Regions from separate parts of the Homo sapiens genome. Here regions 1 and 2 are each linked to region 3. Evidence: fine-mapped expression QTL. A gene starts in region 3. Each other region holds a variant in brackets. All regions are shown on one strand. Distances are between the middles of the regions. Region 1 overlaps HISLA (HIF1A stabilizing long noncoding RNA). Region 2 overlaps HISLA (HIF1A stabilizing long noncoding RNA). Region 3 holds the start of GPR65 (G protein-coupled receptor 65).

Region 1 (10,486 bases), 31 kb after region 3:
TATTCTGGATTGCTGGATATCTACTAAGTTGACCAATATCATGGGAACCTGAACTTCATTGGGTTTATCACCTACCCTCTGATATGCATGTATCTTACTGGGTCACCTAGGGTATTAACATTTCCAATAACCATGACATCATCAATACAGTAGACAAGTGTTATACCATGACGTTCTGCAGAAGGCTAAGATGATGGAAATACCTAGCTATTATGTTGTGACAGGGAACAGGATAGTTAACACAAGAGTGAGTATGTAGAGTTGCCCCTCTAAATGTAAAGTCAAATTCCTTTTGATCATTTTTGCTGATGGAAATCTAGTCAACAAACATTTTCTGTAAAGGGTCATACAATAAATATTTTTAGCCACGTGGTTCTGTTATAATTATTCAACTCTGCTTTTGTAGTCTGTGGTCATATTTGGCCCATGAGCTGTAGTTTGCCTACCCCTGACTTAAAAACAAAGTGTTTTCCAGATTAGTAGCTGCATATAAAACGCCAAAGACCATGTTGATCTTTTTCATGAAAGGTACCACATTTTGTCTCCAATGACCCATATGTTTTTTTCAGGATACACATAAACCAACTGAATAGGGATATGATGAGACCACCACACCTTCATCCTTTAAATCTTTAATGTGTAATAAAGATTTACACATTAAAAGAATTACACATTGTGTAATTCCTTTTAGGATGCAGATTGCTTCTTATTTACCATATAGGGCATGGATGTGTACATAGGGGTGTGTGTGTGTGTGCACGCATTTGTGTATATGTAGGAGGAGAAGGAATTGCAGAAATTTCAGGGGTTTCCACAGAGCCCTTGCTACCATGATGGCCCTTAATCTACAAGTCGGAGAAACAATGGGAGGGTTCTGCCAGATGCTTAAAATAACTGTGTATTTGGAGACTAGAAAAATAACTGAGAATTTTTGTCCTTGCGATTGAACAATGAGAACACATGGGCACAGGAAGTGGAACATCACACACCGGGGACAGTTGTGGGGTGGGGGGAGGGGGGAGGGATAGCATTAGGAGATATACCTAATGATAAATGATGAGTTAATGGGTGCAGCACACCAACATGGCACATGTATACATATGTAACAAACCTGCACGTTGTGCACATGTACCCTAAAACTTAAAGTATAATAATAAAAAAAAAGAAAAATAACTGAGATAAACTTGAGCTAACATTTCATTTATCACCTAGCTTCCATATACCCACTCTAACTGGAATTCCATGATGAAGACTTGAGTCCACTAGCATCGGAAAACTCGGATCCCATATTTAACAGTGCTCAAAAACAAATATACGTACTGCCTTCCCCAGTGTACAATAGTCTATCAATGGCCACAGGTCCCTTTTGGGAAGGATTACAAGGAATATTTCATATTTATATATATTTTTTCAATAGCATTGCAATGTTATTCCTTAAGGGAACTCAGTCTCCTTTTCAATTAGTGGGTTCTAGGTCTACAAAATAACTTAAATTTTGAAACTGGAAGAAAGACTACAGATTTCATTGCGGTGACTGATGTTAACACTTCTATTCTGTAGTTCTCCATTTTTTAAAATAAAATAGTGCAAGTCAGCAATCCTTGTCAGCAGTCTAGCTATCTCACACCTAAGAACACCATGGTCTATTAGCCAACACCAAAGATCCCCATTAGGGCATTTTGATTGACAGCCTGACCTTAGTGCTCATTATAGACATTATGTCCACCATGTTTCTTATAGTTCAACTATCAGAATCCCAAGCTCTGCCACTCTGGAATCCTGTCATCCCTGCTGATAATATACAGCCCAATTTAATGGCAGCATCTCCAACCCTCAGTCCTTTTACAAAGACAATTTCCATTAAACTTCTAAACAATTGTCTGTACCCTCTGACCACCGCATTCCTTATTTCTTTGGTTAATGGAAGATATTCTGTGTTCCCTCAATGAACACAGCCGGGTGATATGTTTTTAGATGTTACATAATAAATTAATTCTTTTTTTTAATTATTATTATACTTTTAAGTTTTAGGGTACATGTGCACATTGTGCAGGTTAGTTACATATGTATAGATGTGACATGCTGGTGCGCTGCACCCACTAACTCGTCATCTAGCATTAGGTATATCTCCCAATGCTATCCCTCCCCCCTCCCCCACCCCACAACAGTCCCCAGAGTGTGATATTCCCCTTCCTGTGTCCATGTGATCTCATTGTTCAATTCCCACCTATGAGTAAGAATATGCGGTGTTTGGTTTTTTGTTCTTGCAATAGTTTACTGAGAATGATGATTTCCAATTTCATCCATGTCCCTACAAAGGACATGAACTCATCATTTTTTATGGCTGCATAGTATTCCATGGTGTATATGTGCCACATTTTCTTAATCCAGTCTATCATTGTTGGACATTTGGGTTGGTTCCAAGTCTTTGCTATCGTGAATAATGCCGCAATAAACATACGTGTGCATGTGTTACATAATAAATTAATTCTAACAGCCCCATCTTTAGGATCCTTCTGATCCTTTCTTCAATACTATACATCAAGAAAGTCCTAGCATCTCTACCTCATTTACTGAAGGCCATCATCCTGTATAAGCTTAAAGAATCCATCCAAACAGATTTTCAGAATCATCTTGAGATATTTCCAAAGCATTGAAATCCAAGTGATGAATGAGCTCTCCCTTGCTGAAAATGCTCCCTACGCAGCCTTATATCTGTCTTCCCACTCCAGGCCAATGCTCTCTAGATCTACTTCCACATGTGTTCCAGGTCCTGAAAATCCTTTTCAGTATAGACTATTCCTCCTGGGGCAGAGGTTGTACTTCCCTGATCAGACTGTGCTGAGACCTGACTCTGGTCATTGGCCTGAAACTAATGAGAATTGGATCTGGAAGAGAACTAGTGCCATATTGCAAAGCACCTGCCTTAAGTGGTGTCATTTCATTGCCTCCAGAAAAGGGGAGACTGTTCCCCTCAGGCAAGTTGGAATCAGTTGCTTCTGCCATCCTGGGGAGTTCAGGGTCATCTCGGAGTTCAGAACTCTCAGGATAATATACCCAAATATTCCTAATACAAGTTAGGGGTCCCACTCTTTTCCCATCAGGGCAATAACTTTGACAGATGAGATCTGTTGGGGCTATGCCTTGAGTCACCTGTGCAGCTCTGCTACACTGAAAACTAGATGCTGGGCCTGCTTTTCAGCAGTCTGCAGGAAATAAGAGTCTCCTTCAAAGTTGCCATAGAACACTTTGACTTTTTAAGGGTGTCTTTACTTGGCAGTTGGCTGTCATGAGCTTCTCGTTTTCTTGTGCCAAGTCTTTCATTGCAGTTAAGAAACATCCCACTCAAAATTTTGTGTAATTATCATTGCCCTCATAACATTCAATTACAACATATCCCAGTGCCACATCTTCTGCCTGCACCTCACTCCCAGTTACTCTCGGGTCAAGGGCAAAAAATTACATGGAGGTATGGGGTAGGAATGCAGGAAAGGAAAATGGCCATATGCAAATTGAAAACTTAGGCCTTCTGAATAAATTGGCCTAGAGATGTATTTTGTTTGGCAGGCTCAACTTCCAGAAAAACTTCTGAACTTAAATATCTTTAGGCAGAGCATGCGTTTTTCCTATTTGCCACAGTTCCTACCAATCACGACGATGTTACTCCACATATTCTCCTTCCCTGCCTGACTTCTGAGGGCATTTGGGCTTAGCATCTCTGGGTGTCAGGATCACATCTGGTAAGAAAGCATAGTGGATTTAGCTAGCTGCAAATTTTCAAGAGGAGTTACTCTCAGCAGCCTCCAGATAGGAATGCCCCATGCCTCCTGAAAACAAGTGAGCAAAGGCCCAGATTCCCTGAGCTCCTTTGAGATTTCCAGCACAGGTGAGCAGGGAAGCAACAGGGTTAGTTGATTCCCAGAACCCTGGGCACATGTTAGAAACCGCAGCAATCTCTTTTTAAGAAAATGCTTAACATTTTCAGGGGATGAGAAGGCACTGAAGTATCTTTATGCAGATGAGGTTTCATCTTGGTTCTGATTAAACAAAACGATGTTGTACCTTGTTCTCTTCCCTACCATTTTTTAGTGGCCTTCAATTTAGTCATCATTTTCCCCCATTCTCAAGTGAGATAAGAGTTAGAGTTGTTATATATCCCCGAAGCAGAGCTTGAGGTTGATTGTCTGTGCATACTGATAATATGGTAATGCCATTCTGTTAAGTGAATGATCTAGATTTGTAAGAGATGTTGAATTTCTTAAATTCACTCTGAGATAGACAATAGATACCATAGACATTTTATTAGAAAATTTATATCATAGACATATTTGAGGCTTACTCTGTGCCAGGCATTGTATTGGGCTCTGTTGATGCAAAGAGAGTTAAGATATGGGTTGCCGCTCTCGGGGAGTTCAGAATCTAGTAGGAAAACACATGATATATGTGAAGTCTAAGCAGAGTATTATGGAGACACCAAGGAGGGAGAGAAGGCTTCACTGAGGAAGTGACATTTGTCCTGAATCTTGAAGGATAACTTGCTCCTGAGGCAAAAGTGGGAAGATAGGATGGCAGTTCAGAACAGTGAGTTAGGGACAAGATGTGGGACTGCTTGCCCCTGTCTTACTGAGCTGCCTTTACCCCATCACTCCTGTTCAGCACCTCACTTTGGTACTACTGCAGCTACCTTCATGAACAATCTCTGATAGACTCTGCCTCCCCACACCTCTGAGATGAGCAAATTGTACCAACTGCATACAAGTAGCAAGCCAGTCACTAGTGCCCTCGACTGGGCACATGGAAGCTGGCTGAAAATCCATCCCCAACTGTAAATTTTAAGTGTAACATTATACCAAGGACATGTATCAGTAAAGTGCCTAGACATTCCTTATTTTCCCATTTTCACAAGCTTGGAGATCAATGGGCAGGAGCAGGAATAAATTACTATGTTATCACACTTTTCTGAGCATCTGGAAGAAAAGCTGTATCTGAAGAGCTGTGGGTGAACAGAATAGCTGAGTGGGTACTTGGGTGATCAGGTGTATTATCAGTGGAATAGTTATTTCATCTTTATGATGATTTGATAGTGAATGGCATTTTCTACTTCCAATGACTCCATGTTCTCAATCAGTTATATTGTACTCTGATATGCACACAATGGGATTGCCTTGGTGCTTAAAAAGTAGATGCATGGACTCCACCGTTTAAATCAGAATCTCGGAAATTGGGGCCCAGATATCTGTATTTTGAAGGCTGCTCAAAAGGTTGTCGTGTGCAACCAGGGTTGCTTACCACACTTCTAGACCAACAGAGAGATTAAAGATAGGGGAGCTTACACTCAAGGAGCAAGGACCCTTATTGGCATCTTCCCACT[T/G]TATATAGATACAGCTTCCATAACAACGACATGGAAAAATGTAATCAGAATTCTTCTTGGAGCAGCATTCCACTAGTTTGACAGAAATACAAAAATACTTTGATAAGCTGCTGGGGGTAAGGGGTGAGTCCTCTCAGGGGCATGCTTAGGAAACAAAGTAGTTCCCAAAATCTATGCATATGACAGAGAAGAATTAGATGGCCTTTGAGAGACCCAGAAGAAAATGCAAAAAGGAATAGGGAAAAAAAGGGCAAAGCAACCTGCTGTGAGCCTCCTAATCTTCCATGGCCTGAATTCCCAGCGCTTGAGGTAAGGATTTCAGTGCTGAGGGTGAATGGGCAATGTGAAGCAGGAGCCAGAGGATCAAGATTGTCTCTGCAGAGGTCTGGGTCTCAACCATGGTGATGGCTAATATGCATTGAGAGTTCTTTAGACATTCAGGAGTAGGGGGAAAGTGGAAAGATACTGTCACATTGTGACAAAAGAGAATTTGGTGATGTCGGTGGTCACCTTGGTGACAGGCTCACAGCTAGAACTGCATTTATGAGGTTCTACAGAGAGTCATTGTGACCAAAAGTCCCCCTCCAGGGTGTTAAACTCCTGGAGGATACTCATAAGCCAGGACTTCCCAAGAGTGTCCCATGGAACCTGAGTTCTAAGGACGGTACATGAAAAAAATCAACATGGGTTCCATGATCAAAGAAGTTTGGGAAATGGGCTAAATGAAAGGACTTCCAAGGCCTTTTATCTGCTAATGAGAAAGGTGATGTTTCTAGAGGCAAGAGACAGACTGCAGCTCTCTCTGCATGCTCTCATGAAATATCTCAAAGAAACAGAATTCCTTAAGGGTCCCTTTGGGAAACACTACTGCCGGTCTATGTGTGAATGACTGGAGCCACATAGAATGTTTTGCAAGAAATAACCAGGACACACAAATGTATAAGAATACATACCGATGCATTTTAAATTTGCCCACTTTTTCGATCAAAAACAAACAAGCGTAAGTTGTTTTCCCTTTCCATGTCCATTTCTAGAACAAGCCCTGTGAAAAACAAGCTGCTGTCCCTGCTAGAGGCATCCTGCAATCCATGGATGTTTATCACCAAGCCATTGTTAACATGAGGTAATGGCTATGCAGAATTTGTTTCACTCACCCCTTGGAACTCAGATTCCCTGTGGAGAGTTGGAGTAATATATATGAGGACAATAGGGAGCCTGAAAGTTAAGAATTCATCCTGTTGTATTTCTCCAATGGCACATTCACGATGTGGCTCCATGGTTTAATGCAGACTGAAAAGCAGTTGGCATTTCACAGCAGGAGGTTAGACATGGAGTGTGCTACTGGGTCAGGGTAGCTTGACTGGATATAAGTGTGTGTGATGGATGCTGTAATGAGGTGGGAGGCAGGTGACCTGAATTTTAGTCCCAAAGATACCACACTAAACTCTTGCTATGTGACCTTAGCCAAATTCTTAGTTTTCTTATCTGTAAAATGAGGTTTAGATGGTCCTGAAACCACCCACTCATGCTCCTCCTCCTCCTCATCTTTCCTGGCTGACTGGGATGATGACCATGAGGCAATGTTGGCAGCCAGGAGTAGAAAATGGCAGACTCACTAGAACATCTGAATCCCTGAAAAACAGTATCGCTGTTGCTGCTGATTAAACCTCCCCCTTGAGAAAGGAAAACATTTTTTGTAAGCTACTGGATGTTTTGGGTCCCTGTGTTTGCCATCTTCCTTATTTCATATGAGAACTAGTACCGAAAAGTAAGCACTATAACAAACATCTAAAATGGAAGGTATTAGCTTAGCATTCAGACTGAAGGCAGGAATAAAATGGTTATGAGTGGCTAGAAAGTGAAAGCCTCATGTTATCCATGGATAACTTTAAAAATTATCATCTGTGATTATTTGGAAGGTAGACCAAGAACGTATTGAGTCTGTGGCTTTAGGGAAAGCAGGTGAAAAGAGTAGGAATATTAGTGTATGTCAACTGCTATTTGTTGTTTTTAATCAAGTGCTACAAGAAACAGATAAACTCAAGCAAGAATTGGTTAGTTTGCCAGCCAAAGTGGAACTGGAAAAAAAAATACAAAGCTTCTTGGGGCTGAAAAAACTCTTGGGTTCTATACCTCAAATACGAAAAGATAAGATTTGCAGATCAAAAAAAAAGAGAGAGAGAGAGAGAGAGAGAGATCCAGCCAAGTGGCAAAGATAATATCAATAAAGTTGCTTTGCCACCCAGGCTATTTTAGACTTCAATGTGGATTCCATGATGGCGGAATAGATGGTATGCTCCAGGAAGACAAACCTTAGATCAGGTCTAGAAAAGAATTTGGGGGTTATTTACGAGCACATGAAACTGACTGGAAACAAATAGGTCAGATACCTATCGAGTTTTTGAGAAAACCGTAATGCCCAGGAAACCACAAGCTTGAATCTGTAAAATTACCCTCATGTAACAGCAGAAAGTGGGCTCTGGGAGATGTGCAACTCCTAGTAACATACTCCTCAATATTCACCGTATAAGGGTCCATGGAGGCTAACGGACAAAAATATTCTCCAGGAGGTCAGAGCCAAGAGACAGAGGAAAATGAGGAAGAAAGTTCCTTGCAGAGGACAGACCCAGGGTCTATCAAAACATTTTCTTCTAGGGTTTGGGGATCTTTGCAATACCTACCCTACAGGATTCCATTATTGCTCTGGACCAGGGAATTCTTTAGGCATTTTTAGTGTGGTTAGCCAGTCCACTTTTGTGTATTGAATAGGCAGATGGAGCAAAGATAACTGGTCTTTTAGTTCAAAGGATGCTGAACTTCAAGGAACTGTATCTGGACTTTCAGAAGAGGCCAGAGCATCATTTGGAGATCCTCGACTTTGATATCAACAAGTAGACAATTCAATAAGTGGACAAAATTTTGGGTTTTCTCCCCAGAGTAATATGCACGTATGTTTTATGTAAAGGATGATAGCAGCAAAAGGGGCTAACTGTGATAGAGGTTGCTAGCTACCTACTAAAAATCCATTCTCCCCTTCTTACTGGCACAGAGCTAAACTGCATTACTCAGCCTCCCTCGCAGTGAAGTGGCCAAGTTTTCTTCAGTGAAACATGATTGCAGTGACACATGTCACCTCTACGTTTGGCCCATACAAACCTCACACTTATCCCAATATGTTCTTTCTTTCTACTGGTTGATTGGTGTGGCAAAGCTTTGTATAACTTCTAGATGCCACATATTGAGGATGGCAGAGCTATCCCCAAATGGCTCTATAGGGACCACTAAGTGACTGTGGAGGAGAGCTGACATCAATCCAAATCCTATTATAAAAACTTTTTGTTTTTAAGCCACTGGAATTTGGGTTTTATTTCAACTGCAGTTCAGAATACTCTAACACATCACTGTAAAAGTAACAATGTCTATTTATGCAGAATATGCCAACTTTTCCAAGGAAGTCCACAGTTGATCTATTGAATCTAAGAGCTTTACACTGTCTAATCTGATCATCACTCTTGGTCAGATTAGATTACATGGTCCCTTCTTATGACTATTTTAAATAAATACACTCAATCTCTTCTCTCCCATCCTCTCTTCTCCTATCTTTATCTCTCTTCCCCGACTCCCCTGTTGCACTCTCCTGGCAAAACCCCAGCTCTGGTTTCATCCAACTCTACCTATGCCCACACTCACAAGTTTCCTGTGGCTAGTTTCACTTTAAACTCATGACTGCTGATGCAAAATAAATCCATAGTGCTGCCCAATAATCTCACTACATTTCCATAATTCATTCATTCATTCATTTAATCTCATGCACAGCTATTTCATACTTTCTCTTCTCTCCACAACTGTCCAGTTCCTCCTCACTCCTCTTCTTTCTCAGCTGATGAGCTAGAATTCTACTTAAATAAGAAAAAAGAAGCAATCAGGGAGAAATTTCCGTTGGTTCCCAACACTTCCTCCACTGCCTACCTGCATCTGTTCCTATGTAATTTGCCATCCCTCCTGGGTGAATTGTCTGTGCTCCTTTCTAAAGCCAAAACCTCCATATGTGCACTGGGCACATTTCCTCTTATCTACTTAAGAATCCTACTCCAACAATTCTCTCCTCTCCTGCATCATCAAAATTTCCCTCTATGCTGGATCTTTCCTTAACTCACAGAACATCTTAATATATATCCCATCTTTCAAAACAACAACAAAAAACCCCCCAAAAATTGACTTTGCATTATCTTGCAACTACCGTCCTATTTTGTTGCTAGCTTTTATACATATATTCCTGAAAATAACTGCCTATATTCACTGTCTTCCTTTCTCTAATTTCTTTCTCTTTTGAGCCTACTCCAGGCAGGTTTTCATACTCACCATTTCACTGTGTTCCACCTATGACCCCAGCTACCGGGAAGGCTGAGGCAGAAGGATCGCCTAAGCCCAAGAGGTCAAAGCTTCAATGAGCTGTGTTCGTGCCACTGCACTCCAGCCTGGGCAACAGAGCGAGATTCTGTCTCAAAAAAAAATTTTTTTAAACCAACTTACATCAAGATCACCAGTGATCCTCATCTTACCAAATCCGGTGGCCAATTACTAATCTTCAGTTTAGTCATCCTGTCAGTAGTATTTGATACAGTGTATCCTTCACTTCTTGAAATACTTTTTTCTCCATGGACTATTCTTTCTTGGTTCTTTGCTTTCCTTACTGGTCTCTCCTCCTCATCTCCCCAACCCTTAAATGTTGGAGTGCCCCAAGCTCAGTTCCTTATGTTGATTCTTTCCCATCTGCACTCATTCTCCAGAAGATTTTGTCAAATTTTATAGGTTTTCATACCAAATCTATGCAGATGGATCCCAAATTTCTAGCTCTAAGCCAGACGTCTCAGTTGAACTCTGGGCTTGCATATCCAACTGCCTTCTTGACATCTCTACTTGGGTGTCTCATTAGTATCTTGAAATTAACATTCTTCAAAATCAAACTCCTGATTATCTTTACCCTCAAGGTTGCTCCATAAAAGTAGCTCCATTTCTCATTTATTTAAGCCCGAACCTTCATGATCTCTAGCTGTACTCTTTTCCTTACATCCTACAGCCAGTGCATCATCATATCCTGTTGCCTCCACCTCA
Region 2 (10,486 bases), 46 kb after region 3:
ACACTATTCTTCATTTAACTACTTTTTGCTGAGTACCCACAATGCTTCAGCCTGTGTGCCAATTTGGGAGGCATAATTATCAAGTAATCAGACAAGATTCTGGCCCTCATAAGGCTTTTTGGCTAGTAGGAGATACAGATAAATAAACAGCAAGTACAATACATTTGGGGATACTATAGAATCACCTAATTGGAACTTGAGAAATCAAGAAATGCCTCCTGGAGATTACACTTAACCTAAGACCTGAAATATGAATAGAAGCTAGCCTGGTAAGGGGAGGAAGAGTGTCCTAGGTGGAAAAAGCAACATACACAGAGCCCTAGTGATAAAAGGAATAGCTGCACACTCTGGTAATAGAAAGTAATTCCACATGGCTAAGGCCTAGATATATATGCATGAGAGGGGAGTTTGTGCTGGGTAGTGTCATGAGCATATTGACACTATATGAAGATGGCTCTAGTGTCAGTGTAGAGAATGAATTGGGTTGGAGGTGACACTGGGGTCAGTGAGAGCCACCAGAGAGCTGCCGAAGGGATGTGGTGGCTGGAATGTGGACAGGACATGGTAGGGTTCTGAACCAGGGAAGCAGCAGAGGAGAAGGAGAGAAGTGAACAGATTGAAAAGATCTGTCTTAGTAATAAATTGGATTTGGGGGTGCAGGGGAAATAGGAATCAAGGACAGCATCTGTATCTGGGCTGTTAGTGGCAAAAAAAAAAAAAAAAAGAATCCCTTTGCTGATTAGTCAGAAAGGAGTTTGAGGATATTAAGAGGCAACTCAATCTTTGGGAAGGGCAGAAAAAAACAACACCCAGTTAGGAAAGCTCACATCCAGGACCACCGTAGCCAAGAGCAATCCGGCTGAACACCACGCCACTGAGCAGAATTATTCTTCTTGTTCTTTGGCTCCCATAATACTAGGAACTGGACACCAAGAGCTTTCCCGCAGCTATCCCAGAAGAGCCTAATTCCTCCACATTTGCCATTGTCACAAGAGGCTACTTCCCCTCACCCAACAGCAGGTCCTGTTGCTCACTTCTGCCTCCTATATTTGTGCAGGTGGAAGTGCTTGACCAAACCTGGGTCCCATGTTGAACCAAGTGGTAAAGAAGCTTGGAAAACATGGTTCCTAGCTTTCCAGGGAGGCAACTACAGAGGAGTTGAGATGGATGCTGAATTCTTTATTGTATCAGCCATGATTGGTGGCTCTAGGGCCAGGCACATATTTTCTGGGGTTCTTCCCTGAGTCACTTCAATCATATACCATCTGGGCCATCTAAACTTGAAGCTCCCTCTGCTTCTGGCCCTATGTTAATTTTTGAATTGTCACCAAGTAGTGTTTTTGAACAGAAGTTCAACATATTCAGACTCACTGAGTAATCCATGTTCACAAGGCTCTCAACCTCACCAGCATATGAAACTTCCACAGTTAACCTGCCCTGCATACTTTTCTATTTATTATTAAAAGTTGCACACATGCACAAAGCAGAGAGAATGGTGTGATGAGCCCCTGTGCACAGCAACCAGCTTTGACAATGATTTGCATTTTGCCATGCTTGGTGTCCAGCATTCTTTCTTCTGCCTAGATCCAGACTCCTTCCATGCTGGGCTTTGTTCAATCCCAGTTCTCTGTTCTGTCAACTTCATCCTCCAACTCAGAAATCCTCTCAAGCTGATGATACCACGTGTACACAAAGTCCTCCTACCCCAGCTTTTTCCCAAGCAGCTGAAATACATTCTACTTTGACTGTGGCTCCCATCCTACCAAACTCATCTTTCTCATTTATTAAGTAAAGTGGTATTGTTGGACCAGATGATCCTTTTCCACAACAAAATTCTAGGATGGAGTGTGAATTTTCACTTTTTGGCTTTAGACTCAATAACAATCTTGAATGATTTTAATTGGATTCTTGAGAGCCAGGACTCATTCTTTTACAATTAATACTCCTCCCCATCCCCGTCTTCTGGGAGCCTCTACCAACCGCATCAAGCAGCTTCCCCCAGCTTGGCCAGGCACCCTCTGTCCACCTCTTCCACAATATTTAGTACTCTCATTTGCATTCATATTTGTTTCCCAACAAAGGCACCTGTGCAATTGTTTCCTACTACCCTGCGTGCTGCTTAAGTCTGATGAAGACATTCTTCTTTGGAGTCTGACATTAGGTAATAAGGACACATAAGGTGATTTGAGTCCCTAACTGGACTCAAAAATGAGATGGCTTTTGTTTGGGAAATGCTTTCACTTCACACCAACCAACCTACTTACAACAAATGATATATAGCAGTAAGCACGTGAGCCAGAATCCACTAATCCTATCATACACCACACCACTTAGAGCAATGGGACAGCTCTTTAAATGTACAGCTGAAGCACTGGATTGGAGATAATACCCTGCCAAGTGGGTGCCATCCTCCAAGATGTGGTATTCTCCCTAAATCAGTGACCATTAAATGGCACCATGTCCTCAGTAGCTAGAACACACAGGTTTGCATACCAACAAAGAGAAGCAGGAATGCCCTTGCCTTACCATAACATCTGGGGAAATTTGTGCTCTTGGCCTTGGTTGCCCAGGGCAGTACTTAGTCATTATCTTATTCCTTCTTGGCTTCCTCCCTCCTCTGTGTCACTTCCTAGTACCTCGCTGTACTCTCCTGACATTCCCTCCAAAATAAGCTACTTGCACCTGAATGTATGTCTCAGAATGTGTTTTGGGGAGATCCATGCTGAGGTGTGGGGTTAATGCTAATATTCATCTCACAGATTTGTTAGGAGGAACAAATGGAGAATGTACCAAGCACCACGTCTGGCTTTGAGTAAGTGCTTGGTAAATGACAGTTATCATTGTTGGTGACATCATTATCATTATCCTCTCGCAAAGAGAGCTGAGGCTGGGCTTATTCAAAGTTCTAAGAGAGGCAACATTAACACACCGGCTTACTCTTTCCACATCTTCCCTCCAATAAGTAAATTATTGATTATATTAGTAGCTGTCTTTTGTCTACTCTGCTAGGTACTGGGCTAATTGCTTTGTATGAATTATTGCAGTACAATGTTGTCTCAATGGCCTTACCAGATTACAATAATCAGGAGTATAATTGTAATCCTCATAATAATAGACAACATGTGTTGAGATTTTTCTATAAACTGGAAGAATCTTCTGAGTGTTTCACGTGTGTGTAGTACTGTAGTATCTCTCTATTTTACATGTGTAGGAATAGGCTCAGAGAGGAGAAATGGTTTGCCCTTGGCCACACAACCTGGACAAGGAGGAATCTGGATCGGAACCCAGACCTAACTGATTCCAGAGAGCTTGCTCTTTTTAGAAGACCACAGTCTTATAATCACTTCTTGTATTTCTCTAGATGTGACTGTATATTTGTGTGATTTAAACTTTTCAGGGTAATGAAACATTGTCCTTCACAGGAGCTAAAAAGAAAACTACAACTCAACATAGACAAGCAAAGTTCACAGGAAATCTGACCCTGTGACAATAATTTTAAGGAACAAGAAGGCATGAGTCACAATCCAAAATAGCAAGAATAAAGCATAGGATTCTGCTTATGCCAAAATATTCCTCTGTGATTTAAACAGAGGCAGGGACTTTGTTTCAACCATAGTGGATATGGGAGGGAGAACGTCTACTGTAAGTTGGGATGTCTACAGAAGAAATGGATATCCAAGACACAAATAACTATTTTTAAACAAGTACATAAAAGACAGGGATGTGTCTATTAAATAAATTCTTATCATTTTCTACCCTTAGAAAAGTTTTACTTAATCAATAATTTATGCTAATGTGGAATTATTCTTAGAAAATTAAAATTCAACCTTATGAAATAATCCACTGAAATCTTCCAAGTTAAGATTACACGTAATACAAAAACATTCTTACTAACTACAATTACAGAAGGAAAATGGAGTCATTTTACCAGCTCTTC[G/A]AGCTATAAAAAGTACATTTGATAGATTCTCCCTGCCCTGTATTATTTTCAATCATCACAATGGCTACTATTTTTCAGAGGCTTGTCATTTGCTGAGAACTGAGTTAAGACCTTTACATTATTTCATTTAATTCCTATAATAACCCTAAGAGGAATATACTATCATTATTTTCATTTTACACAAAAGGGAACTACGGATTAGAGAGGTTAAAATCTTGCACAACATCACTCAACTAGTATGTGGAGGAATCAAGACTCAAAATATGATTAACCAATGTTATTGACTGAAAGGATTATTCCCTCATTGTTCTTTCTACGTAGACCCAAACATCTAAGTTCCACAATGGCTGGAATCAGGGTAGACAAAAGTACAATGACAAAAGACACTGTATTACTGAGTTCTGAAAATAAAGATTCAAGGCCCTTCTAAAAGTGACATCTTAATAAACTGCTCCAAGAATTGGCTTTTCTTGGGGACATGCAAAGAGCTCACTTTTTGGCACTGTGATTTACAGATAAGTAGCCTCATTGTCAGGCTGTGGCAGCCATCACAATGAGTCAAAAACACAGGCTCAAAAATGTATACTTCTCCAAAAACAGAGTCAGAATTCACACTCACGGTAAAAAATTATAAACATCCTGCACCACCCAGTGACCCTGAGCCAACTTGGTGATCAAAGGTGATTCTGAATTTAGTAGGAACCAAGAAGTAAACTCTATTAAATACTATAATTTCCTTAGTCCATCTGTTACATGCAAATACTAATAGTTTCCAGGTTGATTGTTGAAAACCAAAATGAAAATTTGAAGAAGTAGAGGCAAGGGACATATAATGAATGTGTCTTCATCATAAAGATCTTCAATTCAGCCTGATCTATGACAATGATCATAGATCATTATATTGAGATATAATTCACATACCATAAATTCACCCATTTAAAGAGTACAATTCAATGGTTGTTAGCATATTCTCAGAGCTGCACATCCATTACCACAATCAATTGTTGAAATTTTCACCACTCCAAAAAGAAACCCCATACCCTTTAGCAGTCACCTCCCATTCTCCACATGCCTTCAGCCCTAGGCAAGCCCTAGGCAGTCTGCATTCCATCTATATAGATTTGCCTATTCTGGATATTTTATATAAATGGAATCATATATGTAGTATTTTGTGGCAGGCTTCTTTTACTTAGCACAGTGTTTTCAAAGTTCACCTATGTGTTGCAGCAGGTATCACTATTTCATTTATTTTTATAGCTGAATAACATTCTATTGTATGGATATGCCAGATTTTGTTTGTCCACTCATAGGTGATGAACATTTCAGTTGTTTCCACCTTTTGGCTATTAGGAATAATGCTGTAATAAACTTTTTGTGTACAAGGTTTTGTGTAATATGTGTTTTCAATTCTCATCAGTATATACCTAGGAGCGGAATTACTGGGTCATAAGGTAATTCTATCTTTACCTGTTTGAGGAGCCACCAAATTGTTTCACATTTCTGCCAGCAACATATTAAGGGTTCTTATTTTCACATCCTCATCAACATTTGTTATTATCTATCTTTTTAAATTTTATTTTTTATTCAATAGTTTTTTAAGGAGCAGGTGGTGCCTGATTACATAAATACGTTCTTTAGCAGTGATTTCTGAGATTTTGGTGCACCCATCACTCAAGCAGTGTACACTGTACCCAAAGTGTAGTCTTTTGTCCCTCATAGTTTAGCTCCCACTTATGAGTGAGAACATACAATGTTTGGTTTTCCATTCCTGAGTTACTTCACCTAAAATAATAGTCTGCAATTCCATCCAGGTTGCTGCAAATGCCATTATTTAATTGCTTTTTATGGCTGAGAAGTATTCCATGGTATGTGTGTATATATACACACACATACATATATATATGTGTGTGTGTATATATATCACATTTTCTGTATCTGCTCATTGATTGATGGACATTTGGGCTGGTTTCATATTTTTGCAATTGCCAATTCTGTTGCTAGAAACATGCGTGAAACATGCATGTGTGAGTATCTTTTTCATATAATGACTTCTTTTCCTCTGGGTAGATACCTAGTAGTGGAATTGCTGGATCAAATGGTAGATCTACTTTTAGATCTTTAAGGAATCTCCACACTGTTTTCCATAGTGGTTGTGTCAGTTTACATTCCCACCAACAGTGTAGAAGTGTTCCCTTTTTACCATATTCACGCCACCATCTATTATTTTTTAATTTTTTGATTATGGCCATTCTTTCAGGGGTAAGGTGGTATCACATTGTGAGTTTAATTTGCATTTCCCTGATAATTAGTGATGTTGAGCATTTTTCCATATGCTTGTTGCCCATTTATATATCTTATTTTGAGAACTGTCTATTCATGTCCTTAGCCCACTTTTTGATGGGATTGTTTGTTTTTTTCTTGCTGATTTGTTTGAATTCTTTGTAGATTCTGCATATTAGTCCTTTGTTGGATGTATAGATTGTCAAGATTTTCTCCCTCTGTGGGTTTTCTGTTAAGTCTGCTGATTATTTATATTGCTGTGCAGAAGCTTTTTAGTTTAATTAAGTCCCATTTATTTTTGTTTTTGTTGCATTTGCTTTTGAGTTCTTGGTTATGAAGTCTCTGCCTAAGCCAATGTCTAAAAGGATTTTTCCAATGTTATCTTCTAGCGTTTTTACGGTTTCAGGTCTTAGATTTAAGTCTTTGATCCATCTTGAGTTGATTTTTGGATTTTTGAATAAGGTGAGAGACAAGGATACAGTTTCATTCTTCTACATGTTGCTTGCCAGTCATCCCAGCACCATTTGTTGAATAGGGTGTCCTTTTCCCATTTTATGTTTTTGTTTCCTTTATCAAACATCAGTCAGCTGTAAGTATTTGACTTTATTTCTCAGTTCTTATTCTGTTCCATTGGTCTATGTGACTATTTTTATGCCAGTACCATACTGTTTTGGTGACTATGGCCTTGTAGTATAGTTTGAAGTTGGGTAATGTAATGCCTCCAGATTTGTTCTTTTTGCTTAGTCTTGCTTGGCTATGAGGGCTGTCTTTTGGTTCCATATGAATTTTAGGATTGTTTTTTCTAGTTCTGTGAAGAATGATGGTGGGTTTTTTTTTTTTTTTTTTTTTTTTTTTTTTTTTGAGACTTAGTCTTGCTCTGTTGCCAGACTGGAGTGCAGTGGCGCGATCTCGGCTCACTGCAAGCTCTGCCTCCCAGGCTCATGCCATTCTCCTGCCTCAGCCTCCTGAGTAGCTGGGACTACAGGTGCCTGCCACCACACCTGGCTAATTTTTTTGTATTTTTAGTGGAAACGGGGTTTCACCGTGTTAGCCAGGATGATCTTGATCCGCCTGCCTCAGCCTCCCAAAGTGCGATGGTGATATTTTGATGGGCATTGAATTGAATTTGTAGATTGCTTTTGGCAGTGTGGTCATTTTCACAATATTGATTCTACCCATTCATGGTCATGGGATGTGTTTCCTTTTGTTTGTGTTGTCTACGATTTCTTTCAGCAGTGTTTTGTAGTTTTCCTTGTAGAGGTCTTTCACTTCCTTGGTTAGGTATATTCCTAAGATTTTACACTTTTTGCAGCTATTGTAAAAGGGGTTGAGCTCTTGATTTGATTCTCAGCTTGGTCGCATTGGTGTATAGCAGAGCTACTGATTTGTGTGCATTAATTTTGTATCCTGAAACTTTGTTGAATTCCTTTACCAGTTCTAGGAGCTTCTTGGATGAGTCGTTAGGGTTTTCTTGACATGCAATTATATAATCAGCAAACCGTGACAGTTTGAATTCCTCTTTACCAGTATGGATGTCCTTTCTTTCTTTCTCTTGTCTGATTGCTCCGGCTAGGATTTCAAGTACCATGTTTAATAGAAGTGGTGTAAGTGGGCATCCTTGTCATGTTCCAGTTCTCAGGGGGAATGTTTTCAACTTTTCTCCATGCAGTATGATGTTGGCTGTGGGTTTGTCATAGATGGATTTTATTACCTCAAAGTATTTCCCTTCTATGCCAATTTCACTGAGGGTTTTAATCATAAAGGGATGCTGCACTTTGTTAAATGTTTTTCTGCATCCATTGAGATGATCATGGGATTTTTGTTTTTAATTATGTTTATGTAGTGTACCACATTTATTGGCTTGCATATGTTAAGCCATCCTTGCATCCCTGGTGTGAAACACACTTCATCATGGTGGATTATCTTTTTGATATGCTGTTGGATTCAGTCAGCTAGTAATTTATTGAAGATTTTTGCATCTGTGTTCATCAGGGATAGTGGATTGTAGTTTTCTTCTTTCGTTATGTTCTTCCCTGGTTTTGGTATTAGGGTGATGCTGACTTCGTAAAATGATTTAGGGAGGATTCCCTCTTTCTATATCCTGTGGAATAGTGTCTATAGGATTGATAGCAATTCTTCTTTGAATGACTGATAGAATTCAGCAGTGATTTTTGTCTGGTCCTGAACTTTTTTTTGGTTGGCAAATTTTTTAATTACCATCTCAACCTTGCTGCTCCTTATTTGTCTGTTCAGAGTTTCTGTATCTTCTTGTTTCAATCTAGGAGGGTTGTATATTTCCAGTAATTTATCTATTTCCTCTAAGTTTTCTAGTTTATGTGTGTAAAGGTGTTCATAGTAGCCTTCAATAATCTTTTGTATTGCTCTGGTATCAGTAGTAATATCTCCCTTTTCATTTCTAATTTATTTAACTCCTCTGTTCTTTTTTTGGTTAATCTTGTTAATGGTCTACCAATTTTATTTATCTTTTCAAACAACCAGCTTTTTGTTTCATTTATCTTTTGTGTTTTGTTTGTTTGTTTGTTTCAATTTCATTTAGTTCTCCTCTGATCTTTGTTATTTCTTTTCTTCTGCTGGGTTTGGATTTGGATTGTTCTTACTTCTCCACTTCCATGAGGTGTGACCATAGATTGTCTGTTTGTGATCTTTCAGACTTTTTGATGTAGGCATTTAATGCTGTGAACTTTCCTCTTGGCACTGCTTTTTCTGTATCCCCGAGGTTTGATAGGTTGTATAACTATTCTTGTTCAGTTCAAATAATCTTTAATTTCCATCTTAATCTTATTGTTTACCCAATGATCATTCAGGAGCAGGTTATTTAATTTCCATGTATTTGCATGGTTTTGAGGGTACCTTTTAAAGTTGATTTCCAATATTATTTCACTGTGATCAGAGAGAGCACTTGATATAATTTTGATTTGCTTATATTTGCTGAGATATGTTTTGTGGCCTATCATATGGTCTATCTTGGAGAATGTTCCATGTGCTGATGAATAGAATGTATATTCTGCAGTTGTTGGGTAGGATGTTATGTAATTATCTGTTAAGTACATTTGTCCTAGGGTATAGTTTAAATCAATTGTATCTTTGTTGACTTTATGTCTTGATGACCAATCTAGTGCTGTTAGTGGAGTATTGAAGTCCCCCACTATTATTGTGTTGCTGTCTGTCTCCTTTCTTAGGCCTAGTAATAATTGTTTTGGAAATTTGGGAGCTCCAGTGTTAGGCGCATATATATTTAGGATTGTAATATTTTCCTGTTAGACTAGACCTTTTATCATTATATAATGTTCCCCTTTGTCTTTGTTAACTGCTGTTGCTTTAAAGTTTGTTTTGTCTGATACAAGAATAGCTACTCCTGCTTGCTTTTGGTGTCCATTTGCATGGAATATCTTTTTTACCCCCTTACCTTAAGTTTATGTGAGTCCTTATGTGTTAGGTAAGTCTCCTGAAGACAGAAGAAACTTTGTTGGCAAATTCTTATCCATTCTGCCATTCTGTATTTTTTAAGGGGAGCATTTAGGCCATTTACATTCAACATTAGTATTGAGATGTGAAGTACTATTCTATTCATCATGTTATTTGTTGCCTGAATACCTTGTTGTTGTTTCTTCATTGTGTTATTGTTATATAGGTCCTGTGAGATTTATCCTTTAAGAAGGTTCTATTTTGGTGTATTTTTAGGATTTGTTTCAAGATTTACAATTCCTTTTAGCAGTTCTTGTAGTGCTGGCTTGATAGGGGCAAATCTCTCAGCATTTGTTTGTCTGGAAAACACTGTATCTTTCCTTCATTTATGAAGCTTAGTTTTGCTAGATACAAAATTCGTGGCAGATAATTGTTTTGTTTAAGGAGGCTAAAAATATTACCCTAATTCCTTCTAGCTTGTAGGGTTTCTGCTGAGAAATCTGCTGTTACTCTGACAGGTTTTCCTTTACAGGTTTCCTGATGCTTTTGCCTGACAGCTCTTAACTTTAGATAACCTTCATCTTGACTTTAGATAACCTGATGACTATGTGACTAAGCAATGATCTTTTTGTGATGAATTTCCCAGGTGTTCTTTGAGCTTCTTGTATTTGCGTGTCTATATCTCTAGCATGGCCAGGGAAGTTTTCCTCAATTATTCCCTCAAATATGTTTTCCAAACTTTTAGATTTCTCTTCTTTCTTAGGAACATCAATTATTCTTAGATTTGGACACTTAACCTAGTTGCAAACTTCTTAGAGGCTTTGTTCATTTTTAAAATTATTT
Region 3 (10,486 bases):
TTCAATTTGCATTTCCCTTATGATTAGTGATTTTGAGCATTTTTTAATATACCTGTTGGGCTTTTGTATGTATTCTTCTGAGAAATGTCTATTCAGCTCCTTTGCCCATTTTTAATCAGGTTACTTATTTTCTTGCTATTGAGCTGAGTTCCTTATTTATTTTAGATATTAACCCCTGAGATGTGTGGCTTGCAAATATTTTCTCTCATTGTGTAGGTTTTCTCTTCACTCCATTGACTGTTTCTTTGGATATGCAGAAGCTTTTTAGTTTAATGTAATTCCATTTGTCTGTTTTCACTTTTGTTGCCTGTGCTTTGGGGGCCATATCCAAAACGTCATTGCCCAGACCAATGTCATGGAGTTTTCTTCTGTGATTTCTTCTACCAGTTTTACAGTTTCAGGTCTTACATTTAAGTCTTAACCCATTTTGAGTAAATTTTTGCATATGGTGTGAGATAAAGGTCTTATTTCATTCCCCTGGATGTGAATATCCAGTTGTCCCAACAGCATTTATGGAAGAGACTGCCTTTCCCCATGTGTTCTTGGCACCTTTATCAAAAATAATCAATTAACTGTAAATGTGTATATTTATTTCTGAACTTTTTATTCTGCTCCATTGATCTATGTTTCTGTTTTAATGCCAGTACTCTTTTGATTACTGTAACTTTGTAGTAGATTTTGGAGTCAAGTAGTGTGATGCCTCCAGCTTTGTTCTTTTTGCCCAAGATTGCTTTGGCAATTCAGAGTTATTTTTTATTCCATATGAATTTTATGGTTGCATTATCTGTTTCTGTGAAAAATAGCATTGGAATTTTGATAGGAATTGCATTGCATCTGTAGGACATTTTGACAATATGGACATTGTCATTTTAGACATTTTGACAATAGTAATTCTTCTAATCCATGAGCATGGGACATATTTCCATTTATTTGTGCCTTCTTCAATTTCTTTCATCAGTGTTTTATAGTTTTCAGCATACAGGTCCTTCATCTCCTTGGTTAAATTTATTTCTACATATTTTTGTAGCTCTTATAAATGGCATTGTTTCCTTGATTTACTTTTAGGATAGTTCATTGTTAGTGTATAGAAATGCTGTTCATATGTGTGTTGATTTTGTATCCTGTGACTTTACTGAATTTGTTTATTAGTTCTAATGATTTTTTGGTAGAGCCTTTATGATTTCTTATATATAAAATTATGTCATTTGCAAACAATTTAACTTCTTTTTTAATTTGGATATCTTTTATTTCTTTCTCTTGCCTAATTGCTCTGGCTAGGACTTCCAGTACTATGTTAAATAGAAGTGGCAAGAGTGGACATTCTGTCTTGTTCTGATCTTAGAGGGAAAGCTTTCAATTTTTCACCATTTAATATGATGTGAGCTGTGGGTTTGTCGTGTATGGCCTTTATTATGTTGAGGTACATTCCTTCTACACCTAATTTGTTGAGAGTTCTTGTGAAAGGATGTTAAATTTTGTCAAATGCTTTTTATGCATGTATTGAGATGATCAAATGGTTTCTGTCCTTCATTCTGTTAAAGTGATGTATGGTGAAAGATCCTGTTAATGTGCTATTGTATTCAGTTTGCTAGTATTTTGTTGAGGATTTCTGTATCTTATGTTCATCAGGACATTCGCGTGTAACTTTTTATCTTGTAGTGTTCTTGTCTGGCTTTGCTATCTAGGTAATGCTGGCCTCATAAAATAAATTGAGAAGTATTCCCACTTCTCCAAATATTTTGGAAGAGTTTGAGAAGGATTGGTATGGCTTCTTTAAATGTTTGGTAGAATTCAGCAGTGACGACTTCCTGGGCTTTTCTTCGGTGGTAGAATTTTTATTACTAATCAGATTTCCTTACTTTTTATTACTCTGTTTAGACTTTCTGTTTTTTTTTTCATGTTTCAGTCTTGGTAAGTTGTATGTGCCTAGGAACTTCTCCGTTTCTTCTAGGCTATCAAATTTCCTCTTCCTATAAGGACAGCAGTCAGATTGGATTAGGGCCTATCCTTGGGGCTTTATTTTAATTTAATCACCTCTTTAAAGGCTCTATATCCAAATGCAGCCACATTCTGAAGTATTGAGGATTAGGGCTTCAGCATATGAATTTTGGGAAAGGACACAGTTCAGTTCATAACACCAGCTAAGATTTAGGGACTTTTCATGTTGCCAGGACTGGAAGGTGGCTTGACCCTTGGTTCTCAGAACTGCCCTCTATCAATGCTGGCATCCCCTGAGACACCCCCTTTCCCTTCTGGTCTTTGGTAGTTAGCCCAGGTAGTATTAACCTGAGTTGTCCCTCATCCGTGACACAAAGTGCCACACTGGGCCACTGAAAGTGCTGTGAGATGGGCTGAGGCTTCCCATCACTTCTTTGTGCCCCTCATTCTACTCCACCTGTGCTATACGGGCACAGAGGGACTTGATGAGTGTCTTAGTTTGTTTTGTGTTGCTATAAAATAATACGTGAGACTGGATAATTTATAAAGAAAAGAGGTTTATTTAGCTCATGATTCTGTAGGCCAAGAAATTCAAGGATGTGGTCCCAGCTTCTGGCAAGGGATTTCATGCTGCATCACAGCATGGCAAAGAAAGTCCAAAGGAAAGTGGACACATGCAAAGAGGGCCGGAGAGGTATCCAGGCTCTTATAATAGCCCACTCTCTCGAGAACTAATCCATTCCTGGGAGAACTAATCCAGAAAGAGAACTCGCTTACTACCTCAGAACAGCACCAAGCCATTAAGGAGGGATCTACCCCCATTGCCCAAACGTCTCCCACTGGGCCCCACTTCCCACTACTGCCACACTGGGAATCAAATCAACACCAGCTTTATAAAGACAAACAAACCATACCCAACTATGACAGTGAGGTCTCTCAGGTACATACTCCTGAGTCTCTCCTTGGAAATGAGGCACAGGTTCACTCTCCTCCCCAGATCACACAACTCATCTAGGGTGTTTGTCACCCACCCCTACCTCAGGGCTTGCTTGGAAGTGAGTACAGCAATCAGGATGCAGGGCCCCTTTCTCAAGCACTGACCACATCTAACTCTTGAACATACTTCCTCTCTCACAACGTTAAACCCAACCCCCGCCAAGCAGGACAATCTTTTTCAGTTTTGGGGGCTGGGAAGCTTTACTTTATTTCAGCACATATTCTCCCAAGCATAGTGTCTGTGCCTCAGTCTTTTCCAAGGCCTTGAATTTTTGAAAGTCAAAACTCACATTGTCTTCTTTTTTTCCCCCCCGCTTGTGCCAGAAATTTCCTTGAGGCAATAAATGCAAAATGGCTCACTGATTGTGTAAGGGTAGGGCTAGAGTGAAAAGAAATGTGGCTGGGAAAATATAGCATTATTTCAAAATCTTACCCTGCCATATTTAGTTGCCGCTTTAGCTAGTGAAATTACACCTAGCAGATAGTGTGGCCTCACAAAGGACCCCTTCATCAGTAGAACACACTCTTGCACTGTCTGCCCAATGGAGAAGTTGGAACCAGGTAGATCCACAATCTCCTCCCCATTACCCCATGAGTAGCCCAACTGGCCAGTGTTGGGTCCCCAGATTGTGACCACAGAAAACCAAATAATTGACTGGTCAGAAATGCCAACCCCGTTAAGGCAGTGTTCTGAATAACTACTAATTGTCTTTATCTCATTGTTATGTTGTTAAAATGTCACAGTGACTCAATGATTTAAAATTTCTAACCGTTCATTATAAAAGATAGCCCTATAGTTGAAAATACAGTATTGCCATATTTTCCATATTAAGAAGCAAATTTCTTAAAAGCTGGTAAATTTCTTATTGTGTAGAGTTGGCAAGGTTTTAGCATAGGTCAGCTCCAGCTTTTTCTCCTCTTTAATCAGAAGTGAAAGTTTGTGTTTCTTATGTTTCTTAATGATAATCTTTTTCTTTTGAAAAGCAAAATACATGAATATTAGATATGGACATGAAAATACCCTTTCCCTAAAAGCAGAAGTATAGTCTATTCAGATAAAGTAAGAGATCATCAGAGTAATGAAATACCTACGTAACAATGCACTTGTACCCCGAACTTAAAAAAAGATATATCATGTATAGAAACCACAGATAAGCAGATGTACGAAACCAAGCAAAAATGAGAACTTTGAATTACAGTCACAAGTAAACTGAAATCGTTACTTTTCATTTTTGTAAAACTTCAAGACATTTATTGTTAATTTTTTACTTTATACTTAATTTTTATTATTTCAGTAACAATATATTGATTTATAATTTACTATATGCTAAATTACTTTATAAACTATCCTGTGCTTTATAAATGTAAGGTATTAGTTTTATTATTCTCAAAGAAAGACCTACAACGGAAGTATTGAAAATCTTTACATTCCTGATATACCCTGATCAACTTCAATATGGAAAGCCTTGCTTATATACAGGCTAATCTTTTCTATCTCTGGGTAGGGAGAAAAAAACAACAAAAAAAAAACACCAGCAACAACCCTTAATGTCCTTTAACAAACACAGATTCAAAATGTCCTGATTACATCTTTAAAATTAAGTCAAATGTTTTCATCCCAAATAAATTCTGTTCTTTCAAATAATATTTTCCCTTCATTTCTAATAAAAGTTTATGAGGGCAAGATTCAAAAGTGATATTTCTGACTTTTTTATATATCAATAGTAAGAAAGTTATAGGAGCTAATTTCACTTCATATTAAACCACTTATAGATTTGGCATTAACTTTAACTTGCTAAAGTACAAGAGTTTTTATAATAACAATGTAAGTCTTAAATAAAATTTTCAAGTTTCATAAAATTATTTGTCTCAGCTAGTTAATTCAACTGGTTTTTAGCCATCTCTGTTTCCAAGAGGAGAGAATCAAAGGAGAAAATAGTTCTACAATCAAATACTATATATCTAATCCCATTAGTCTCTCAAAAAAAAAAAGAAAAGAAAGACGGTATGAGGTTGGCTACCTTAACCCCTGCCTTAAGCAGCACAATATCCATCATTAAACCCCTCAGCCTCAATTCTCCCTTTTCTGTTTTTGTCCCAGGAACTTTATCACCCTGAATCTACCTACAATATCCTCCCCTATCTCACACATCCAAATGGTTCATTCTATTTTATCTGTACCCCTCTTGAAGTACTTCTTCATTTTGCCATTGCATTACAATCATTATTAAACATGTCTTTCTCCTTTACTAGGTAAAAAAAGCTGCTTTTGGTTGATAGCCAGTTCGTATACATCTCCCCGCACACTGCTGGCATGATGAGTGAATGAATGAATGAATGAATGAATGAACAAAGAAATAAATAAAATATTTAACATATATTCCATTAAGTAAAGGGCATATAATATAATATCAGTACATACTTGTAATTAAGATGCAATGAGACAAGTGAGTTATAAAAATTACAGTACAGTAAACAATAAATAAAAACATCTTTAAAAGTATTTAAGAGACTTTTTTTGTTCAAACTTGGATAACGCACACCCTTCTCATTGAGATGCTGCTTCCTCATTGGTTTGTGCTGAAATATGAGTGCAATTTCCTGTCCCCTCAGCAGTGTTGGTTTCTCTTCTTGACTTGATGCAGGCACAGATTTATCAAGCTCCTCAGTCAACAAACACATCACCGGAAGAAATATGGGTAAGTATAAGATTAAAAAATAAAATAATATTTTAAAGTAGATAACATGCTTTGGCATAATTGTCAGTGATGTTCGCAACATTCTTCCTGGTTTAGGCTGTATAAATGTGGTAATGCAAAGCATGATAAGAGAGAAAGAAATGAGGAAGACACATGGTTTCCTCTACTTTGAGCAGTGGTAAAGGGCCAAACTTTAAATTTAGAACTAATTAGGCAAAACCATAGATATAGAAAAAGGGGGTTGTTCATACTTTATTTTCTTTTCAGGAAACAGTGCTTTGGCAAACTTCATTCAGTATTAGGAAGAAGCCTACCAGCCCCTGGCTTTAGAGCTATCTGGCACCAATCCCTCATCTGTACAATGGTCCAGTAAATACTTTTTATATCCATCAGAAAAAAATGTGATATTAGGAAAGAATATTTCCAGTATTAATAAATGTCAAGTAATAATTATTAGTTAATAAGTGACTACCACAGTGCCTGAAATATATAGTAGAGTCTTAATAAGTAACTATTAAACTGATAGATGAAAGCAAGCATTTTCTATAACACTGTAGGAAAATATTGTACTTTTGGTCATCGTCATCAATGATTTGTACTATTTTTAGATCTGTTCAAGAATAGATATACTTTAATATACTGTAGATTGTCTTTTTTGACATCTGGTAAAAATTAAAAAATTAAAAACTCACCAAAATTTCTCAGTGCTTGTTCTAAAAACAATTTTCTCAAAATTTGATTAAAGGAGGCAAAATAATATCTGAAAAGATATGTGAATACTGTAATAGGAATTATATACAGTATTCCACTAAAATCTCAGATCCACCCAAATTAAATGAACAACTATTATCTGCAGAGCCTAGTATTATACGTGAAGTGTTACCATATAAATTACACTCTGAGCACCTCCAGCTTTTCTGCTATGCTGTGGCTAGATGACTAAAGATGATTTCTTTTCAGAAAATGTAGGGGACAGCACAAAGATTGGTGCAGACTACCAATGTCATTAAAACAATATTACCAGCTAACGTACAGTGAATGCCTCCCATGTGCTAGGAACTTTGCTTCATATGTCGTTTCATTTAACCCTCACAACAATCTTAGAAACTGGGTACTAACTTACACATGTGAAAACTGGAACTTAGAGAGGTGAAGAAACACCAATGGGCCCAGAGTGCTGTTGAGAGGCATTCGAATTGTCTCCAGAGCCCACGCTCTTAACCACAAGCCTGTACTGCCTCTGCGTCACTACAAAGAAGAGGGCCTCTGCTTCATCAACCCATCCTGTCTTGTGGTTAAGTCAAGGCAGGAAATGCTTTTACAGCTAGAGAAATGTATTCCATTGAAAACTTTATAAACCTTTCTAAAAATCATTTTTTCATTTAATCTGTCATACCATTTTTAAAGAAAATGATGACTATCTATTGAGTAACACGGACAAAGGAGGAAGAGGCACATGCTGCCCATTACCCGACTTTCTCGGTCCTGGTCTTAAGGGGAGGATGTTTTCATGGTTCAGGTGTTCTTCCCAAGACACATGAGCCTGGTGTTGGACGTGTTGTGTGTGCATCAGAGTCCCATCCGCGGGGGCTGATTCAATCTTCCTGCATCGCAGACATTACCCTAGTGTCCTTTTCCTACTTCAGTTATATCCTTTAGAAGTTTCTTTAGTGGGGATTTTGGATGTAAATGTTCTGAGTGGTAGTTTACCTGAAAATGTCCTAATTCTTGCTCTGGTCCTTGAAATTTAGTTCTGTTGAGTATATAATTATAGGATGACATATATTTTCTTAGCAATTTGGAACTTTTAATCTTCTGCTGTCTGTTATCGCTGTTGAGAAGTCTTTTGTCCGTCTAAATTCCATCCTTCATAGGTAGTCCATCTTTCCTCTCTGGCTCTTTTTTCCTTAGTCTTTGGTGAACTGCAATTTTATTGCAATGTGTCTAAGTATAGGTTTCCATTTTTGTGTTTTTAATCCTATTTGGGATTTTCTAAGCTTCATAAATCTGCAGATTTCATGAGGATTGAAGATGCATGAGGATTCTTCATCCATCCTCAAGATTCCTTCATCAGTTCTAGAAAGCTCATCATCTTTGTGAATATTGCCTTTTCAACATTCTCTCTTTTCGATCTTTATGGAATTCCAATTATGTATATGCCACCCTTTTCACCTTTTCTCCATATCTCTTATATTTTCCCATGTCCTTAACATGCTGATAATTTTGTGTTATTTCTTTATCTCTATCTTGCAATATACAAATTTTCTCTTCAGCTGGATCTAATCAGTTGGTTACTCCCTGTGTTTATTTTTAAATTTAAATTATTATTATTTTTATTTTTAGAAAGTCTTTTTCAATCTTTCTAAAAATATGGCTTGTCATTTTTTAATCTCTTCCTCCTTACTCATGTGTTTAAATCCCTTCTTTTGTTTCTTTAAACATATTAAACATATTTTGTGTTTTTTATATATATATATATAAATTTTATCTCTAAAGTTTTGTGGATCTGGTTTACTTTGTTGTTTCTGCTCAATCTGACACGTAGTTGCTTATTATTCTCTCTGTGTGTATGTGTGTGTGTGTGTGTGTGTGTGTGTGTGAATAAGGTCATATTTGTTAGAACTCTATCTGTAGGATTCTTTGAGGCCTGAGTTAAAGAGGACTTGTTCAAGGGGGGATCTGTGTCAACTTCTTCCAGGAGCCTAGAATTTATTTTTTCATATATAGTTAACCTTTATTTTTGGTGAAGTTATTTTCATAATTAGGTAAATTATTTATTTATTGTTTTCTCTCAATTACATTTTATGTATGAGGATAGAAATAAGATCAGATTTCTTAAAAAGGCATATATGTTCCATCTGTGGGTAAAACAGATGTTTGTTTGTCAAGATGCTCTACATGCCATCTCACACAGCCTTTTGATTCCACTTTTTAATGTTTCCATTGCAATACAATACACATGCAGCAAAATGCACATATCCTAAGTGTACAGCTTGATGCATTTCTACAAACTGAGCATGCTCATGGAACCAGCCACCCCTACCAAGAGATAGAACATTGCCAAATCTCAGAAGTCCTCCTCATGCCCTCTTCCAACAGTACTCAGCCTTTCCCCAGAGGTAGCCACTACCCAGACTCCTAACATCATAGATTAACTTTGCCTGGTTTGTATCAGATAATACATACTCTTTTGTGTCTTTTTTTTTATCACTCAGAATTACATTTGTGATCTTCAACCATGCGATTGCATGTAGCAATAATTTATTCATCTTCATTGAGGTGTAGATTTCAGTGGTGTTACTATATCCCAATTTACTCATCTATTATACTGCTAGTGGGCATTCTAGTTAAGGGATATTACAAGTAGTGTTACTGTGAATATTCTAATTCTAGTACCTGTCTTTTGGTTAACATATGTATGCGTTTATGTTGAACAAATACCTAGAGGTGGAATTGCTGGATCATATGGCATGCATAAGTGCCTAGTGTTTTTTTACTCAACAGCATATGAGTCAAGATGTTCTATTTCCTTCCTAACACTTGATATTTTGTCTTATTTTCATTTCATTTGTTGTGTTGGGTGTGTAGTGGTATATCATTTTAATTTTAGCTTGAATTCCTCTGATGACTAATGAAGTTGAGCATGTAGGTTGGCCTGAAGTTTGCAGGATCAAACTAATAATGTAGACCCAGACCTAGTTTCCAAGTGAGGACCCCACAGGCCACAACTACTTAGGGTAGAATTTTTTATTGTAACTCCTCACAGAAACCAAGCAGAGGCAGGGAAATTGCCATCTTTTCTCTACTGTCTGCAAATGTCTGTGGAATTTATTTTATTTTGTTTATTTTCTAGTTCACCCTTTCCCTGACAGCAGAGGTTCTGGATCCCATGTGTTTGGGATGGTCAAGGACCCCTTCTTACCTGCATAGGCCCAAGTTTTGTCTCTAGTTTCTCTGATCCCTAGTGAGTTCCTCCAGATCTACATATGTCTTCAGGCCATCCAGAGCTCCGGCGCTCACTCACCTCCCTGATAACAGCTCCCACCTCCTTTCTTCCATCACAAATTTTCCCCCCCTTTGGAAGCTTCCCTATTTATTTAAAAGGCTGTTTTTCACATTTTATTCCTGTTTTTTAGGTTGATAAAGCTAAAAGTTTTCAGGAGTTTTAGTTACCTGTTTAAGAGTGAAATATGATATATTTTCCCATATGATTTACTCTGCTAGTAGAATTCTTGTGACTTGTGATGGCAGGTCTTTTTGTGCTCAGGATTCATCAACAGTTGGGAGGGAGTGATTCTGGTGCCCTGAATAGTGTTTCTAGAAAGCTTTCTGTGAAGGTATTCACCATGTAAATGATCTCAGCCACCAGTAGGCCTCAGCAGCAAAGGGATATAGACAAAGTATTTCTCTACTCCAGTATGGAGAGAAGGATGGAACCTTTACTCTTATGTGAATCTATGACATCATAGCTTTAAAAAGACACTAACCTCTTAAACCATCAGATATAAAGGTGGAAATTAATGATTCCAAGATTTTACCCAGAATAAGAACATTCTGTCCTCTCATTTATAAAAGTATAAGAAAAATAAAGTGAGTTAGTCGACAAAGGAAATAAAAAGATAAACAGAAGTAGGATTGTCTAATTATATGCTAAGGCTTAACAAACTGCTACATTTTAAAATTCTAAAACTTTATTGTATTTCTATTATAGTATTTCTTTGGATAATAAGGTGATTTTTGAAAGTGCCGTACACCTAGATTGAATATGAAATTAGAAATTTGAAATCACATAACCATACAGTTGATCACACATGCAAAAGTATTTACCAATCACAGACAAATAACAGAATTTT

The links. PIP is the estimated chance that this variant, and not a neighbour inherited with it, causes the effect. A credible set is the group of variants that fine-mapping cannot tell apart.
Region 1: its variant is the best candidate, but not a certain one, in a credible set for the expression of GPR65 in whole blood (TOPMed, PIP 0.75).
Region 2: its variant is the best candidate, but not a certain one, in a credible set for the expression of GPR65 in whole blood (INTERVAL, PIP 0.66).

What each region holds. Positions count from the first base shown.
Region 1 is chr14:88,030,946-88,041,431 of GRCh38, forward strand. The region is part of intron 2 of HISLA (HIF1A stabilizing long noncoding RNA); the gene reads left to right. Among named protein-coding and RNA genes, the nearest start is that of LINC01147, 9.9 kb to the left of the region's middle. RefSeq lists an enhancer at 6,323-6,824. The variant T/G (reference allele first, on the strand shown) is at 5,372.
Region 2 is chr14:88,045,977-88,056,462 of GRCh38, forward strand. The region is part of intron 2 of HISLA (HIF1A stabilizing long noncoding RNA); the gene reads left to right. Among named protein-coding and RNA genes, the nearest start is that of LINC01147, 25 kb to the left of the region's middle. The variant G/A (reference allele first, on the strand shown) is at 3,938.
Region 3 is chr14:87,999,590-88,010,075 of GRCh38, forward strand. GPR65 (G protein-coupled receptor 65) reads left to right here and starts at 5,546. Exons shown (of 2, transcript NM_003608.4): 1 at 5,546-5,633. RefSeq lists enhancers at 5,961-6,130, 6,931-6,990.